Linked DNA regions of Homo sapiens. The protein of the gene in region 2 interacts with the protein of the main gene of each other region in a biochemical or structural test. Each region holds a gene or a part of one and is shown on either strand. Other genes may lie near its edges. The genes, in order: RNF220 and SIN3B.

Region 1 (8,970 bases), on a different chromosome or scaffold from region 2:
GGTCAGGAGTTCAAGACCAGCCTGGCCAACATGGTGAAACCCCGTCTCTACTAAAAATACAAAAATTAGCTGGTTGTAGTGGCACATGCCTGTAATCCCAGCTACTCGGGAGGCTGAGGCAGGAGAATCTCTCGAACCCAGGAGGTGGAGGTTGCAGTGAGCCGAAATCGTGCCACTGCACTCTAGCCTCCAGCCTGGGTGAAAAAGTGAGACTCTGTCTCAAAAATAAATAAATAAAAAGGAAAAGAAAAGAAAAGAAGAGAAAAGATTTGTGCCACAGCTGCTCTGCCTGTTTGCTTCATGACTTCTCATCCAGCTACTTGGAACCGGCTTAAATGTAAGGAACTCATGAAAGATAAGAAACGCTTCAGGCCAGGACCTGAGCAGGACAAAGACCCTGCACTGCTGACTGTCTTAACACCCTTCTTTTCCCTACCCACTCCTCCTGTTTGGTTCAGAGGGGCTTCATGCTGGATTTTAGCAACGCAGTCACCGCCAGGGCTTAAAGATACAGCTGCAGGCTTCCATTTCCTGTGAAGCTTCCTGGGAAATTTCTCCATCTCACCACTCTTGTGCCCACATCATTGCCACCTTATTTGAAACCAATCATTCCCATGTCCTCTTTCCAGCATGTCCCTTCCAGATGTGAGGAGCTCTGGGCTCCCCAATGCAGTTGGGTGAACTCTCACTGGCAACCAACACACAGGAGGGACCATGGTTCACCACTATAGGTCTCTTCTCCAGGATCCAGGAGCTGGATGGAGGACAGGAGAGGAAAGGCATGGCTCCTTAGTCACACACCTCCTTAGACTACAGGTGGAAGCAGGCTTGTCTTAAGGGCTGTATAGTTAGGTTCCCCTGTAGTCTGCTTCTCTAGCCTAGAAGCCCCTTGCTCTGCCCAGGTTTGGCATGGTACCCAAGAAAAACATCTTTTCTCCCTAACTGCGGATCTCTTTTAGTGGAATGTTGGTGGCGCACTAGGCTCTGTGTGCTGTCCTTTATGTAAAGAGCAGTAGCAGGTTAGAAAATCTATGGTTCTGAAAGGACAATCAACAACTTAGACACACAGCTTAAGTATTTCTTCTAGAATTGGGAAGGTCAGAGTGCCTCCTAGGCAGCAAAAATTCCTTCCAACTTACTTTCTTGAAGTAATACCTATTTCCTTTAGTCTTTTCAAAAATCTGTTTCCAGTGGGACCTACCTCAGTGCTCACCTGCTCTGTCTGCTTCTTTATTTTGTCCTAAAATATCAATCCGAGTACTCCCAGGCCTGAGATATCTGGAGCTCCTCCTCAGTAACCACAGGTCCCCATCTCTAAGGCCTGTTGCCCTCAGCCAAGTGTCTCCACCGAAACTCTTGCCCGTTCACTGCTTCCCACAGCAGATTACATTTGAGGTAACCGATCTGATCCATCAGACCAACCTCCAGGGGCCTGGTGGGAAGCTTTGCTGAGGATGAAGAAGAGGCCCTACTCTGGGAGGAGGGATGGGGGTGATCGGATACAGGAACTTATCTGCAATTCTTCACTTCTTTCATATCTAACAACGACAGCAATCTCTGTTCTGTCAGCACGCACAGCGCAGTTTAAATGGGCCTCGCCACTCGCCTGCTCATCCTGCCTCTGCCTCCTTCTCTCTGAAGTCTGCTGGGCAGCTTCTTCAGCTGGCGTTATCACTCCCTCTAACCGGTCTTGGCAGGCAATCTAATTCCTCCTGAAAAGGTCACCGCCATTTTAACTGCCTTTCAATCACATTAAGCACGCGCTGCCCGGCTTGCAGCCCGGCCCGCCCGGCGGGCGATCAATGCGCTGCACTGACACCAGCCCGCCTGGCGAGGCCACACCCAACCCCCCAAGAGTTAGGGCCTATCAGTCCTGGCCAGGGAGGGTAGGCTGACAGATGGCCAGCTTTTGCAGACAGGGTTTTGGGGGCAGAGGCAGTAGGGATCAGCCAGGGCCTCCCTTTGATAGCCCCCCCACTGAGGAGCCTCAGCCTCCTCCGCTCCACTGCGCCCCGCTCTCTGCCTCGTGGCCCCCGCTGATCTCGCTGTAAAACAGCCTTTCAAGTCTGCCTGTCTTTTGACTGCACTAAGCTGTTTAAGAGGCGGCAGCAGCTTCTATCAGGAAAGCTGGAGCAATTCTCTGCAGATAAAGGCACCTCCGGCCCCTGTTCCCTCTTCAAGTCTCACTCTCATTCTCGCTCTCCAAATCGCTCAAAGAAAAGCCCCCTTTGAACTCCCCTCAGGAATTCTTGAAAGGAACAACCTCACAGTGTAAACACTCAGGGAAAACGGATACCCGCCCGGGGCCTAAGAGCCCCTCACACTGCTGTGCAAGTGCATCCCGGCACAGGGGAAATACTCTTGTCAAATCAGCAGGCCCTTTGCAGCTTTATCCTCCATAAGCCCTGTCTGGTGCCCAGAAGCCATCAGGTCCAGGTCTGTGCCAAGGAACCTAAGAAGGTGCCACAGCAATGGAGGATGTGAGCAGTTGCAGCTGCCAACAGAGCTAACCAGAGCAGCACGTTGAAACTGACCCTGTGTGGCTGCCATCGGACACCCATGTGTCCAACTCATGGGACAGTCGTCAGCCCTGCTGCTCACTCTTCTAGGGCCTCAGATACTCGAAGGCTCCAGTACGGGATGAGTGAAATGGCAAACTAACACTCTCCAGCTCCGGCTCAGGGAGACTGTTTGGTCTGACTAACCTTCCTGATTTATGTTTTGGCTTGCCCCCAAACACCTGGGTAATGTGAGAGACGCCCAGAGGCATAATGTCTCATCTGGGCTCTTAGCCCCTTCGTGGAACCAGTCTGCACTGGACGGCCCTGCAGAGACCACTCCTCAGCATCTGCCCAGGTAGCACGGCCCCACGAAGGCAGAGAACTTCTTCCCAGCTGCTGTGAGATTCCCCAGGGACCATACACAGCAGTATTCCCAAAGGTGTTGCCCAGAGAGAGAGGCAGACGGGAAGCAGATTGGCTCACTTAATGACCACAAGCTGCAGTACCAGCTGTGCTTGTGCACAGAAAGAGAGAAGAGCTGGAGGCCAAGAGGCAGACAGCTCCCCTTTTCCCCTGCCCAAGGCTGGGGAGTTTAACAAGTCACTAACCCTGGGCACCCAACCAATTCTGCTGTCTGACCTGGTGGGGGGTGTCAAGCCTTGCTCTTCCAAGGAGCTGGGAGGGCACTGGAGATGGGCAGGGCCCTGCACACTCCTTTGTAGCAACTGGGGAGAGCCCAAGGGAAGGAGGGAGCAGCTGGGCCCAGGCCCCTCTTGCTTCAGGGCAGAGGGCGCCCAGGGAGAAGGGATGGGATCAGAGCTAAAATTAGATTCACCAATGAAGCTCATGGGAGGTCAAATTTTGCCATAACTCACTCTCCTCTGTAACTGATTTCCCTGACATAGGGCTGAAGAGGAGGAGGAGGAAAATCCAATGTGTTTGCCTGGAAGCCCTCAGGGCCCCCAGTGCTGGAGGTGTACAGCAGGTTGCTGGATTCTCATTTATCAGCCTTAAGAGGGATGGAGTGATAAATGCATAACCGTCCCTTTAATATTTTATGCAGGTGCTAACGCGGCTTGGCTGTCACCTTCAATGCATCACCCGAAGCTGAGAGCCCCCCTTCGTCACTCCTAGCTTGCAGCCTCACAATTCCATTTCCCCACCCAAATACATCCATTTTAATATGCACATCACAGGCAGGCAGCACGGTCACAAAGGAGCCCCACCAGCAGCAGTCCCCACGTGGTGGAACGGATGGATGACCAGCCACCAGCCTCGGCCTCTTGGCTTCCAGCAGATGGATACCCAGCAGAGGCCTGGCACCAGAGTGCCAATGTCTACGTGTCAGCTGCTTGTACCTCGGAAGCCACCTTCCAGGAGAGTGGTGGCCCGTATCCGCTTCTGTCCACACCACTCATACTCCTCAAAGCGGTTGTTGTTCTCATGCTCGATGTCCACAGCATCATCCTCAGCCATGCAGGAGCCTTCCCTCTGTGAAGAGCAGAGCAGGATCATGCTGGGCCCAGGCCATCCCCACCTGCTCCCCACAGTCTGCAACGAAGGCACAGCTCTAGCCCCAGCTGTGGTGTGCCAAGTGGGCCCTCAGCTCTAGGGCTCCTTTGAAGCAAACCAATTTAGAGGTCAAAGACCTGGGCCTCTTCCCAATAGTTTTCCGCTGGAGCCCAAGGAGGGAATGAGTGAGAGTGAAAGCAAAAGGAGAGAGCAGTGGTCAGAAGGGAAGAAGCTGCTGAGACCACATGGAGACCCCAAGAGCCCACAGATTCAGGGGCAGTCAGCAGCTAGTGTCGGGGGAAGGGAGCGGGGAAGGAAGGTGGGTGGTGATGGCCCCTCTACCTTAGAAAGGCAATGCTCCACATGCCTACTCATCTCCTGCTCCGATCCTGCCAGGGGGCGGTTGCACAGGGGACATACCTGCCCTTCATCTTGCTTCCTCCGTTTCATTTTCCCAATCCGAGCTGCACGGGGAAACCGAAAACAAAGCACAGAACAAGCAGACGGTCACTGCAGCCCCCAGGGTCCCAGTGGAGCTGACACATCCTGACCTCTTGCCAGCCATTGGCCTTTTTATTCAGTGCCTGATCTGGCCCTCATCTTGAAATACCTCCTGCTCCTTTGGGGACTGGGCTTTGCCAAGAGCACCTGGGGAGGAGACTGGTGCTAACTAAGCCAGTGAGTAAGTCCACTCTTTGGCTGCAGCTGGTGCAAGGTCTACCCATACCTTTCTATTTGCAGTGTTTAATAAAAATCCAGTGAGCAAAGACACTCCATGTTGCTAGGTATCTCTCCAGAAGGCCAAGACCATGAACTCTTTTGGTGTCAGGAAATACAACTCTAAAGAGCATCTCTTGACTAGAACCTAACCCCTCCGATGGCCTGACTTGGCCTGCTGTTCACTCATCAGCTAAATCCTCTTTGGTTCCTGGGCCAAGAGCCCTGAGGTACAGCTCCTAGCATCCCACCTAGAATCTTATCAGGAAGAATTTCTCTGAGGTCCACTAATCCCATTTCACAGAAGAGGAGACTGAGGCCCAGTCATAAAGGTAAGACGGTCTGGGTCAGACCTTTGGCAGCCAGGTCAGAAGGCTCAGGGAACCCTGAGAAGGCAGCCCTTATTGTGCCCACCCGAACCTGTTCCATCATTTCTAATCAGTACAGAGGGGCTGGCAGGCCCTGGAGGCAGAGGGCTGCCTGCCATGTTGTCCCACAGGGGGCTCAGTTCCAAAGTGCACACTGCAAGCCCACAACACTGCTAATTAATGCTGAGCAATGCAATCATTTCTAATTAGCTCACTAATCCCTCTCTGTAGCCCTCCTGTCACTGAAGCAGGAAGGGGTCAAAACAAGAAACTCTCTTCCCTCTAGTCCCTTCCAGAATGCCACAGCAGGATCAGAGATGGCTACTCTGGGACCAGACTGATGGGGAGTGGGGAGAGCCAGCAAAGGAGGGAAAGGTTCCCCAAAGCAGGGCCAGGAAGAACTTTCTCATGGACAGTGACCCTAACGGGAAGCTCATGAATGCAATCTAGGAGGGGAACACAGGTGAGAGCTGCTATGTTACAATTTAAGCTTCTACCGTGTGTCAGGCTCACAGCCAAGTACCTTACCCAAGGTAGCTCATTTACTACCACTTGCTGAAGCTAGATTGCATTATCCCATTTTAACAGATGAAGAAACCCAAAGCTTAGAGAGATCAAGGTACGTGTCCAAGTAGCTAAAAAGTGGCAAAGGCAAGATAGGAAACCAGAACTGACTTCACAACCTAGAATGCCCTCCTGTTTCAAGGGGACCTCCTAACTGAGCAGCATCAACAAAGACTGGTCCCAGTGAGTGTGCTAGGGCTCCAGCTCCTGCCTGTTGTGAGCCTGAGGCAGGGAGCTACTCCAACTCCAAAACAGAGCAACCCCAGAAAGACCCAAACCAAAAGGAAAGCTACCATCCTGCCAGAACTGGGCATGGAGTTTGAGGAAACTTGGTCTGTAGCCCAGTCCATCTCTTCACTTTCCTGTGTCTTCACTATAGGTGACATGACTGTGTCCTAGTGCCTCACTTGACTTTGTGGACACAGATCGAGAACTCTTCATTTTGGCTGCCCTAACTCTTGGAATCTCAGACTTAGGTAGCCTTGACACTCTAGAGCCAGGGCTGGGATGGAGAATGGACGTGAAACATCAGAAAGGCATTGAGCAAAGGACCCTGAGAGTTCTAGAAGTGTAGTAAGGAGCAGTGTGCCAACACAAAGCTTCCTCCCTACCATGCCTACACCAAGGGAATGCCTCCCTGGGGAAGAAGGTGCTGATGATACCACAATGTTCAATGACTAAGGAAACGAATCTCATGGAATGGTCAAGAAAGGCACAATACTGGATGCGCTCCTTGCTCAGGACACACAGGCCAGCAGATGATCCCTTGTTGTCCCTGGAAAGCACCCCAATGGACTGGGCTTCATCTGCAAATTCTCAGAGAAGGAAGGCAGGTTTGGTTTTCACCTTCCCATTCATCTTCTAAATCCTGAATTAAGCTTACCAAAGTGTGGTAGGGAAAGTTCTGTTCTCTATCCAGAGGCTACGTACGAGTAGGAAGAATCAAAGCATTTGCCAAGGAGGTAGCATGGCATGGTTGGAGAAACACGGGCTTTGGTGGGAAACAAACTTCAATTGAATCATGGCTCAGTTACATCCCAGCTGTGTACTTTTAAACAAACCACTTTCACCTCTCAGAGCCTGTTTTCTTATTCACAAAAGGTGTGTAATACTCTTCTCAGAGGCGTTGTGAGAATGGTGCTTAACATGGCGCCAGCCCATCATGAATTTCTCCCTTTTCCAGACTAGGGCTCAGCCTGGCAGCAGAAACCAAGTGATAAGAGCTGGGGATCTTGAACTCCATGGCCTCTCTCACTTACCAGCTGACCCAGAGACCCTAAACCCCTTACAGCCACCCCCCAGATACCACACCCCAGTAAGCACAAAAAGCTAGGATCATTCAATTGTATTCAGCAAACAGGAATGCTCCAGAGGTTTGAATCCAAAAGGGGGGCTGCTAGGTAGTGCATACACGGCCTGCTTTCAGAGAAGGCCTCTAAGAGCTGTCGAGCCCACGCTGATCACCTTTGTGAAATGTGGGCCGACTGATAACTCAAAGAGCCCTGGGATGAGTTAGTTCCTGTTGCCGTGGGAACTCCAGATCTCACTGTATTGTCAAGTCTCAGCAGAGGGGCTGTATTCACACTACTGGGCACTGATTAAAAACTGGAAGAAAAACATTCTCAGCGCCCTGCAGGTTTGTATAGTGAGGTCCCAGCAGTTTGCAAATTCAAAGCTGAGCTCCCGAGTAGAATTGTGTAGCTCGTTCCTCATTCTCCGGCACTTATTGCCCCCCCAGGGTTCTTCAGGGCCTTTAGAGAGGTTTGGGCAAGAGCTGGGCGCCATACCTCCATTAGACAGACGGGGAAACTGAGAGCGGCAGCTTTGGTTTGCACATACTCAGGCGCCGTGACTGCGAAGAAGCCAACGGGCCCCAGAGTCGAAGAGACCCAGGCAAGCCAGGAGCGGCAGGCAGTGAGGGAGGGAGGGAGGAGGCCGGGGGTGGGGCGGAGGGAGGGGCCGGGCAGGACTCACCATTCAGTCGGGTCTGCCGGTTGGCTCGTACTCGCAGAAAGGTCTGGGAGAAGATCGCGGGCAGATGCAAGAAAAGAAAAGAGAGCGTCAGGCGCGGCCTGCAGTCCTGGCCCCCGCCCCAGCACCGGACCCCCGACCAAAGCTGCTCCGCCCCAAACAGCCCGTAAACAAACCTACTTCCTCCCTCCCGCCGGCCCCTCTGCTCCTCCGGCCGCTCCGGGCTCTCGGCATAGCCGCCGGGCGCTGCTCTAACGGGACCCCGTGGCCGCTGCGCGGTGCCGCCCCAGCCCTGGCCTCCGGCGCTCTGGGCCCCACGGCCGCCCGGCCGGCGAGGGCGGCGATGCGGGCGGATTCCCCGTGGCTGCCCGGCGGCGGCGGCACTTCAGCTCCAAGCGGCGGCGGCGGCCATGTTGGCCCTAATCACGTGATCTGCCGCCGTCGCGCGCTGGGGGTGAAAGTTCACAATGCGGCGGGGGCGGCCGGACAGAGACCAGGAAGCTGCCGTTTGTACTCGGGTAGCAACCGGCAGAAGCCTCCCCGGGGTCCCTCCCACCGCCCGTGAAGCCTACCCACCCAATCTTTAGCGGCTGCGAAGTCCTTCCACCCCACTCCACGACCCCTCCCGCTGCGGGGCTCCTTCCGCCCCATCGCCCGGCCCCGGCTCCCGCCTCCTGTGCCTGCCTTTCTCGCGGCTGCCCTTAGGGCAGAGGCATCGCGTTGGGTGCTTTACAGGGGACAAGGCGTCCGAATTCCCTATCGCCTGTGGGCGATCCCCGCCCAACCCCTAGGCCATCCAGTTCTGTTATCAGAGGACTCCCAACATGTCAGCTGTCTGCTGCACGGCCCCTGGAGCTCCCATAGGCACTGCATACCCACACGGCCAACATGGCCAACATGGAACTCAGTATCCTCCAAACAGAGGCCTTCCTCTTGGGTTCCCTGTTCATAAGAGGAAGCCACTATCTACTCAGGTGTGCCCACAGAAGAAAGTTGAGAGTCGTCCTGGACCCCACTTTCTCCATCCCTCACACTCAATCCTTTTCTAGATCCTGAAAGTGTACATTGAAAGGTCGCTAATTTTCTCATCTCCACCTCTGTATCTCCTACTCATCCTTCCAGGTCTAACTGAAAAATAGCTTTGCCTTGTGTAAGAGTACATTCATCTCTGCGCCGTTATCATCGCTTGTGAAGTTTTTATCAGTGGACTGACCACTTCAGGGTTGGGGCCGTGTGTGAATTATTTGGGTGAACCCAGAGCCCAGCATGGCACTGGGCAAAGGCAAGTCAGCCCTGAGTTGTTCTTCCATGGTTGTACCTACCTTGGTTGTCGTTGT
Region 2 (8,970 bases):
CCAAGGCAGGGAGGCAGACGCAGCAGGGCTCTTGGGGAAAATGAGCGTGGATGCCATCTCTGCAGGCTCCCGAGGGAAGGACCGGGTCTCCTAGCAGCCTGAGGTTTCCCTTCCTCCTCCCCTGCAAGGCGGCTTAGAGGCTGGTAGGGCCAAGCACACTGACCTGGTTCCTAGGAGTCTGCACGCTCAGCCCTGCTCTGGGCTCTTCAGTGTGACCATCGCCCTCTGACTGCTTCCTAAGTCCCCCAGGTCTCATTTATGCCATAAACACTCTGAAAATTCCTTTACAGTCCCCTCTGAAGCAGGGTCCCCATGTCCATGATCTGTAACCATGCTTTGTAAATCACGTGATGGAATGGGGTTCTGACTTTGGAATTCATCAAGGACCTGCATGTGCAGAGATCTGCATATGAACCTTGGTGCCCCTCCCTTTGTCAGCCCCAGCCCCAGGGAGGGATCCAGGAACTCAGGGTCGCATTGGTGGATTTCCAGGGCTACTTCATCATCTGCACTTTGCAGACACCACAGACCCACAGAACCTATACGGGGTCTTGGGCTTGAGGATCGCCGAGGACTAGAGTGAGGAAGCCAGAGTGGTTGTGGGTGGGCCTGGGGCGAGGGTGGCCCACGGGAAGGGAGGTGGGAGGGAAGGGGGTCCCCACAGTCCCACAGGCTCTGGGAGAGGCCTTGGGCCAGCAGCCCGGCTCCTGTGGATTCCGTTTCTGTGTTGTAAAAGAAGGAGCGACCGCTCACTGTGCAGTGACAGGAGCAAGAAACCAAATCAGGTGAGGCAACACCCCCTGCCCAGGTGGGCACCAGGCTGATAACGCAGCCCGTGCCATGATCTGGGCACTGCCTGGGGAGTAGTGTGCCCTCCTAAGCCACCTCCTCAGAGTGTCCAAGGACCTTCCCGACAGCTGGCTATCACCACGCCCGGCACCCTGCCAAGCTTCCCACCTCAGGATCCTGCAAGCAGGCACTCCCTACACACAGCTACTAACAGGCCCAGCTCCTGGCAACCTGAGGGCCCCGCTGGCCTTGGTTCTATGACTCAGGCCTTGTGAGCCTGCAGTGAGGACATGCAGCCGAAAGCCTCGAACCCAATGACTCAGAGCCCTGGCCCCCTGCGACCAGCCCAGGCAAATGCAACCTCTTGTGCCTCAGTTTCCCCACTGGTAAAATCAGAATAATGCCGCAGCAGAGTCAGGTTCAGGAGTGAGGTCAGATGATGCATTACTCTTTCTGTGTTGCTAACACCGGTGCCTGGCACAGTCGGCAAGAAAGAAATGAAGGCTGCTGCCACCCACTACCTAAGCCAAAGTCCATCACTGCCCCACGGGAGGGACGGAGACTTCGCTAGACAATGGCAGAGTCGGCCAGGAGCGGTGGCTTACGCATGTAATCCCAGCACTTTGGGAGGCTGAGGTGGGTGGATCACGAGGTCAGGAGTTCAAGACCAGCCTGGCCAACATGGTGAAAACCCATCTCTACTAAAAATATAAAAATTAGCTGGGTGTGGTGGTGTGCGCCTGTAGTCCCAGCCACTCAGGAGGCTGAGGCAGAAGAATCACTTGAACCCAGGAGGCTGAGGTTACAGTGAGCTGAGATCACACCACTGCACTCCAGCCTGTGTAACACAGCGAGACTCTGTCTCCAAACAAACAAACAGATAGACAATGGCAGAGTTGCTGGTTCTCCTAGGGCAGGCCACAGGCTGGGCATCACAGAGACATGAACCCTCGCCTCAACACAGCCCTGAAAGGGCAATGCCACTACCCTGCCTAACCACCAGGGAAACAGAGGCACAGACCCGGCGGTCGGGAGAGCCAGGACCCCACCCCCACCGGCCGGCAGGGCTAGGGAAGGCTTTACCTCGTCGTAGACGCTCTCGATCTCGTTGAGCAAGCTCTTGGAGCGCAGGGCCTTGGTGTCGTTCTGCTTGAAGTTCACAGCCTGGTGGTCAAGGGACTTGAGGTACGCCTTCTCATACTGCTCCCGCCAGATCTTGTTGAAGCCCTGCTGGGCCTCCCGCCACTCCTCTTCCTTGGCCTTCAGTCTGCGGGGGGAAGAGAGGTCAGCACCAGGGACAAGCCAGGGCATCCTCCCTGAAGCATCCCAGGGCTGGCCTGTCTTCCTCTGGGACTTGACTGGGGGTCCAGGACCCAGGCCCAGCCAGCTCCCAGCCTAGTCTGTGCAGTGGGCTCTGTGCACGTCAGAGGGAGGGCGTGATGGCCTTACAGAGCCAATGTGGCCGGCTTCCCGGTTCCTCCACCTCCTCCCTGGCACCCAGCACTCTCCGCATGGCTGTTGGCTCAACCACTCAGGTCCCCTGCTCAGCTGTGAGTCCCAAGAGAGGGACTGGGTCTGCCTCACTCAGCTGCATAATCCCAGGGCCAAGCACTGCACCTGCCTGAAAGTGACCACTTGATAAATGCCTGTTAACTAGCGCCGGACGGCATCCGAAATGCAGCATTAAATAAAATGCAAGCCACAGTGTAGTGGTCGCATCTGACTCTTAAAGCAGTTATTTAGATGTCTAGATGTATTATGTGCAAGGTGGAAAGTCCTAGAAGGTCACAGTGCTCTCCTCTCAGGAGTGGGAGACTGGGAAATACAGGAAGGCACCCTTAGGCCTCAGAGACCACCCCTGGAGATGACACCTGTTGACAAACAGCACTAATGAGCTCTCCAAGGGCTCCCTGCAGTGGGGAGGGGAGGGGAGGGGAGGGGAGGGAAGGGGGAAGGGGAAGGGGAAGGGAAGTCGGGACGCCACAGGGCACCTTTTCAGGACAACGGGGACAGCGGTGACAGGGTTCTTCTTGAGGCTCTCGATGATCTCCGGGGCCTTGTCGCCATAGATGCGATAAATGGCACGGCGCTGGATCACCTCCGACGTGCCTCCCAGGGAGTCGTCCAGCCGGAACTTCTCCTGGTCTTCCGGCGCCATCCGAGACAGCTTCTTCTGCACACTTTCCAACACACGGATTGTGGCCAGGTTCGTCTCCAGGACAACGTCTAACTATGGAAAGGAAGGCAGGACGGGGTCAGCCACTGGGGAACTCAAGAGGCCTCAGAGAGGAGCCTGGGACCTCAGAGACCAGAGGATTTTTTTGGGGGGGGGGTGTGTGTATTTAAGAGATAGGGTCTTGCTCTGTCACCCAGACTTGAGTGCTGTGGCACAATCAAAGCTCACTGCAGCCTCAACCTCCTGGGCTCAAACAATCCTCCCACCTTAGCCTCCCACGTAGCTAGGAATATAGGTGTGCACCACCATGCCTGGCTAATTAAAAAAATTTATGGCCGGGCACGGTGGCTCACGCCTGTAATCCTGGCACTTTGGGAGGCTGAGATGGGCGGATCACAAGGTCACGAGTTCGAGACCAGCCCGACCAACATAGTGAAACCCCGTCTCTACTAAAAATAAAAAAATTAGCCAGGAATGGTGGTGTGCCTGTAATCCCAGCTATTCAGGAGGCTAAGGCAGGAGAATCGCTTGAACCCAGGAGGTGGAGGTTGCAGTGAGCCAAGATCATGCCACTGGACTCCAGCCTGGGCGACAGAGTGAAACTCTGTCTCAAAAAAAAAAAAAAATTTTTTTTTTGTATAGATGGGCTCTTGCTTTGTTGCCCAGGTTGGTCTTGAACTCCTGGCCTCAAGCAGTCCTCCCACCTCAGCCTCCCAAAGTGCAGGGATTACAGGCGTGAGCCATCGTGCCCAGCCAATAAAACTTTTAATTACAAAAATTAATGTAGCCTGGGCAATACAGACCCTGTCTCTAAAAAAAGGAAAAAAAAATTAGCCAGGTGTGGTGGCTCATTCCTTTAATCTCAGCACTTTGGAAGGCCAAGGTGGGAGGATCGCTTGAGGCCAGGAGTGTGAGACCAGCCTCGGGAACACAGTGAGACTTCATGTCTACAAAAAAAGTAAAAAAAACAACTTGGGCATGGTAGTATGGACTTGTGGTTCCAGTTACTCAGGAGGCTGAGGTGGGAGGATCATTTGAGCCTGGGAGGTCAAGGCTGCAGCGATCCATGATTACGCCACTGCACTTCCAGCCTGGGAAACAGAGCAAGCAAAATAAATAAATAAATAAAATAAAAATAAATTTAATTTTTACATTAAAGAAACTTTTTAGGAGACAGGGTCTCATTCTGTTGTCCAGGGTGGAGTGCAGTGGTGTGATCTCGGCTCACTGCAGCCTCGGCCTCTCTGGCTCAAGCAATTCTACTGCTTCTGCCTCTCGAGTAGCTGGGATTACAGGCGCCCGCCACCACGCCCGGCTAATTTTTGTATTTTTGGTAGAGATGGGGTTTCGCCATGTTGCCCAGGCTGGTCTCAAACTCCTGAGCTTAAATGATCCACCTGTCTTGGCCTCCCAAAGTGTTGGGATTACAGGTGTCTGCCACTACGCCCAGCCCAAACAAAATTTTTAAACAGAAAGAAAAGTGCCATCTGGTAGCCAGCCCAAAGGCCAGCAAGACCCGGCAGGAAGCTTCCAGGAGCTGTTGGAATGTGCTGCAATTCCTGCTCCTCCAAACGAGACTGGGGCAGTGGAGGAGGATCAGGATGCATGTCCCATGGAGAAGGGGAACAGGCACATGCCGGGGGACCCGGCCACAGCAGCACACACACCTCGAAGCGCTCGTCCTCACAGCGGTGAAGCTGCTCCTCGTACGGTGTCTTCTTGGAGCTGACGAACGTGGAGTCCTCAGACCAGGAAGGGAAGGAGACCCAGGTGTCGTTCAGTACCTGCACCAAGAGGAAATGCCGTGAATGACGCTGCATGCCCCAGGAGCCAAGATTTACTGTTAGCCAGTGTAGAAAGTACCAAGATACATAATACCATCCTGATACATAATACCAACTGCCTTATACAAATGGGAAGGTGCATAAAGTTTTTAAGGAAAAACATGACTTTGGTCAAGTGGACACTCCCTTGGTATCCTGGGAGATTGGTTCCAGAACCACCCCTGAAGACCCAAATCCACAGATACTCAAGTCCCTGATGTCCAATGGAATCCTATTTGCATATATCCTATGCAAAATCATCTCTAGAATACTTATACCTAATGCAATGTAAATGCTGTGTAGATCATTGTTACACTGCATTCTTAAAATGTGGATTACGCTTTATTGCTGTATTGTCATTTTTTGGTTTCTCTTTCCCCACGTATTTTCAATCCATGGTTAGTTGAAACCACAGATGAGGAACTTGCAGATCCGGAGGGCCGATTTCATTTCAGACATTGGTAAATTCTCTCTGCAAAGGGTCAGACAGCAACCATCTCAGATTTTGCAGGCCATCCCAGATGAATACTCAACTCTGCCTTTGTGGTGAGAAAAGCAGCCACAGGCAATATGTAAAGGAATGGTTGTGTCTGTGTGACAGTAAAACTTTATTTACAAACACGGGCAGCGGGCCAGGGCCCGTGGGCCAGAGTTTGCTGACCCCTGCACTATATCCTGGAATCCAGCAGGTATTCTTGAACTTGGACATGCAGTAATCGTCTGTCCACGAACCCTGGAGAAGTGTCCAATGGTCAAGCTAAACAGAAACACACTGAGGTCAGTGAGCCCGGGACAGAGCAGAATCATGGCAGCAATAAACCTAAGTCAAATAACAGATGAATAAGCCGAACTCCACGTTATCCCTGGCACTCTGTGTTTTGCCAAAACTACCAGCAGGGTACAACACTGTTGTCTCTGCTCAGGTGGTTTTGCCGGGCCACATCCCAGCACCACCCATAACCCAACATTCAGGAGGGCTGAGCACACAGCATTTCATTCATAACGGGGGTATCGGGTGTTTGCTGGGGAGGGGTGGGGGATGCACCATGTCAACGAACATTTGAGCCCCAGGGAGCGCTACCTCCTTGCAGATGGCTGTCCTCCCACTGCACTTGGGCTGCTGGTAGGTTTTGGGGAGTGCCCGGTAGCTGGATCCTATGCGCTTGCAGGATGCATAATCAATTTCCCGGCTTATCCCGTCCCCGGATCTGTCGCTCATGGGTGGCGCGAAGGACAGCTCTTTTACCCCCAGGAAGGACTTGAACTGTGCAAAGAGTTCTGGAAATTTCCTTCAAAGATAAAGACACATGGTAACTGGTCATCCCCAGGGCCTTCTGAGAGGGATCTGGAGATTTTAGAATGGCTTCATGTGGACATTACAAGTTAAACAGAGTCAGAATTCAACATCATGGATGCGAATGAGAGGCGGAAGAATCCAATACACAGGAAGTCACTGCAAGTCCCGGGGTGTGTGAATGAATGGGCCTCCCACCCATCTGTCACACACCAGGTCCCTTCCTGTGCCTATTAATCCCATACTCACAGTAAGGCTTTGAAATACACCAGAAAAGATGACTTAAACTGGCAGAAGCTGGAACCCCTGATGTTCCCTGACTGGAAGAGGCCAGGCTTCAGGCCAGGGAGTGGCAAGCCACAGCCAGTCTGCACACTGCCTGTGTTTTGTTTGGTTTGGTATTTTCTTTTTAGAGATAGTGTCTTACTCTGTTGCCCAGGCTCAAGGGCAGTGGCATGATCTCAGCTTACTGCAACCTCAAACTCGTGGGCTCAAGAGATCCTCCCACCGCAGCCTCCTCAGTAGCTGGGACCACAGGCATGTGCCACCACACCCGGCTAAATTTTTTTTTTTTTTTTTTTTTGAGACAGAGTTTCACTCTTGTCGCCCAGGCTGGGGTGCAATGGCACAATCTCGGCTCACTTCAACCTCCACCTCCCGGGTTCAAGCAATTCTCCTGTCTCAGCTTTCTGAGTAGCTGGGACTACAGGCATGCACCACCATGCCCGGCTAATTTTTGTATGTTTAGTAGAGACGGGGTTTCCCCATGTTGGCCAGGCTGGTCTCAAACTCCTGACCTCCGGTGATTCACCCGCCTCGGCCTCCCAAAGTGCTGGGATTACAAGTGTGAGCCACCATGCAGGGCCAATTTAAAAATTTTTTTGTAGAGATGGGGTCTTGCTATGTTGCCCAAGCTGGTCTTGAACTCCTGGCCTCAAGTGATCCTTTCACCTCAACCTCCCAAAGTACTGGGGTGACAGGCGTGAGCCACCATGCCTAGCCATCCCATTGTAAATAAAGTTTCACTGGCCTGCAGTCACATCCACTTGTGTACGCACTGCCTGTGGCTGCCTGCACAAGAGGGGTTTGAGTCATTTCCACAAAGCCCATCTGGCCCCTCAGAGATCAAGTTTGCCTATCTCTGATCCACAGTCTTCCTCTCATGAGGGAGACTTCTCTCTGTGAACCCCTCTCTGGACACAAGCTTGAAAGTCATAATGTCATGGCTGTGGTCGACAACAGGAAGGCTTTAATGCAAATGACCCTACAATGCCACCTGGATTTCTGTTTAAAATAGTATCAGACCTGGTGGTGTGTACCTGGAATCCCAGCTACTCAGGAGGCCAAGGCGGGAAGATCACTTCAGCTCAAGAGTTTGAGACCAGCCTGGGCAACAGAGCAGGACCCCGTCTCTAAGCAGTAACATCAGATCCTACCAAAAAAGTTGCAGTTATGGCCAGGCGCAGTGGCTCATGCTTGTAATCCCAGAACTTTGGGAGGCCGAGGCGGGCGGATCACGAGGTCAGGAGATCGAGACCACGGTGAAACCCCGTCTCTACTAAAAATACAAAAAAAAAATTAGCTGGGCGTGGTGGCGGGCGCCTGTAGTCCCAGCTACTGGGAGAGGCTGAGGCAGGAGAATGGCGTGAACCCAGGAGGCAGAGGTTGCAGTGAGCCGAGATCACGCCACTGCACTCCAGCCTGGGCGACAGAGCGAGACTCCGTCTCAAAAAAAAAAAAAAAAAAAAAAGTTGCAGTTACTTTGACTGCTGGTGCCACAATCCTGCTGTGACCTAGCCACCCAGCCCACCCTCGCATAACGACGTCCCCCTCATTGATGTGGGCTCCGTCGTTCCCCGTATTTAAGAACCCTATGCCAACCCTGCTCACAAGGAAAACCCACAAGCCGATGGAAACGTAGGAAGGAAAGAGACCAACAAAAAAGCTGCAGAGATGCCTGAGGCTACTGCTGGGATAAACGCAAATCGTGACTGCTCTGAAGGGAATGCTCAACCCGATCCACCCTGGCTGCCACGCGGCTGCCAGCTGCGAGGGGCAGTTCCCTGGGCCGTGTTCAGCTGCCCAGCCCAGCTGAGCACTTGACCGCAGGTTGAACACGCGGAGGAACGCCACATGGTGGTGAACGCTCCTAACCCAACCAGGCCTCGTGTCAAGCACACGCAGAGGCCCGCTTCAATTCTGGACCTTGCTCCATACAGACCCTTCCCCAAACGCCCTTCCCCATACGAGTCTCTACTGCTGAAACATGGAAACAAGAACAGCTGACTGTGCTCCGGCACTGCCCATCTGTTCAGCACCTTGCCTTTCAGATTCTCACCTTTCATGTTCCTTCTGTCTTCCCCTCTAACCTCCTGATAAACCCAGGAGGGAGGTATGGCCATTTTACAAAGACACTGAGGCTCGCTTGGCTAGTAGGAAGCAGAGTCCCAATTCCAACCCGGGGTGGTCACGTGCCCGCTGGACCCAGGTGCCAACACCAGCTCCACACACAGCCCCTGGGGGCCCCTTTTCCCAGGTGGGACCCAGGCTCAGAGAGTGCTGGATTCTAAGCCCAGTGGAGGCAACTCAAGGTGAATGTGCATTCCACATCCACAGAAAAAGCCCAGCCGTGTGCCCACCACCCACGTCACAAACAGACCCCAGGAGTCCCCGTTTTGGCTGAGACTAGAGTAACACCATCCTGCTCTGGGCTGTTCTTCAGGGCGTTTACAGACCTTCAGCAGCCCAAGAAAGAAAACCCACTGAAAAGATCACCCCAACACGTGCATGCCTGAGACCACCAGGGAAAGGCCTTCTGATGGGCTCAGCTTGACCCATGAGGGTCGCAGACTCAGGAGCATTTGCTGTCAACACCACTTACAGGGAGG

The links.
Region 1: the proteins of SIN3B (region 2) and RNF220 form a complex in vitro, tested with the Homo sapiens proteins (one study listed by BioGRID).

Annotation. Positions count from the first base shown.
Region 1 is NC_000001.11:44,631,052-44,640,021, reverse strand, and holds part of RNF220 (E3 ubiquitin-protein ligase RNF220), read right to left. Parts: exon of another isoform or gene 7,868-8,970; coding exon of another isoform or gene 7,814-7,867; exon of another isoform or gene 7,810-7,813; intron 7,680-7,809; coding exon 7,637-7,679; exon of another isoform or gene 7,632-7,636; intron 4,785-7,631; exon of another isoform or gene 4,478-4,784; coding exon 4,434-4,477; coding exon of another isoform or gene 4,356-4,433; exon of another isoform or gene 3,993-4,355; coding exon 3,860-3,992; exon of another isoform or gene 3,522-3,859; intron 1-3,521. UniProt on the Homo sapiens protein: E3 ubiquitin-protein ligase that promotes the ubiquitination and proteasomal degradation of SIN3B. Independently of its E3 ligase activity, acts as a CTNNB1 stabilizer through USP7-mediated deubiquitination of CTNNB1 promoting Wnt signaling.
Region 2 is NC_000019.10:16,859,459-16,868,428, reverse strand, and holds part of SIN3B (paired amphipathic helix protein Sin3b), read right to left. Parts: intron 6,078-8,970; coding exon 5,870-6,077; intron 5,778-5,869; exon of another isoform or gene 5,546-5,777; coding exon of another isoform or gene 5,450-5,545; exon of another isoform or gene 4,786-5,449; coding exon of another isoform or gene 4,750-4,785; coding exon 4,633-4,749; intron 3,020-4,632; coding exon 2,781-3,019; intron 2,057-2,780; coding exon 1,873-2,056; intron 1-1,872.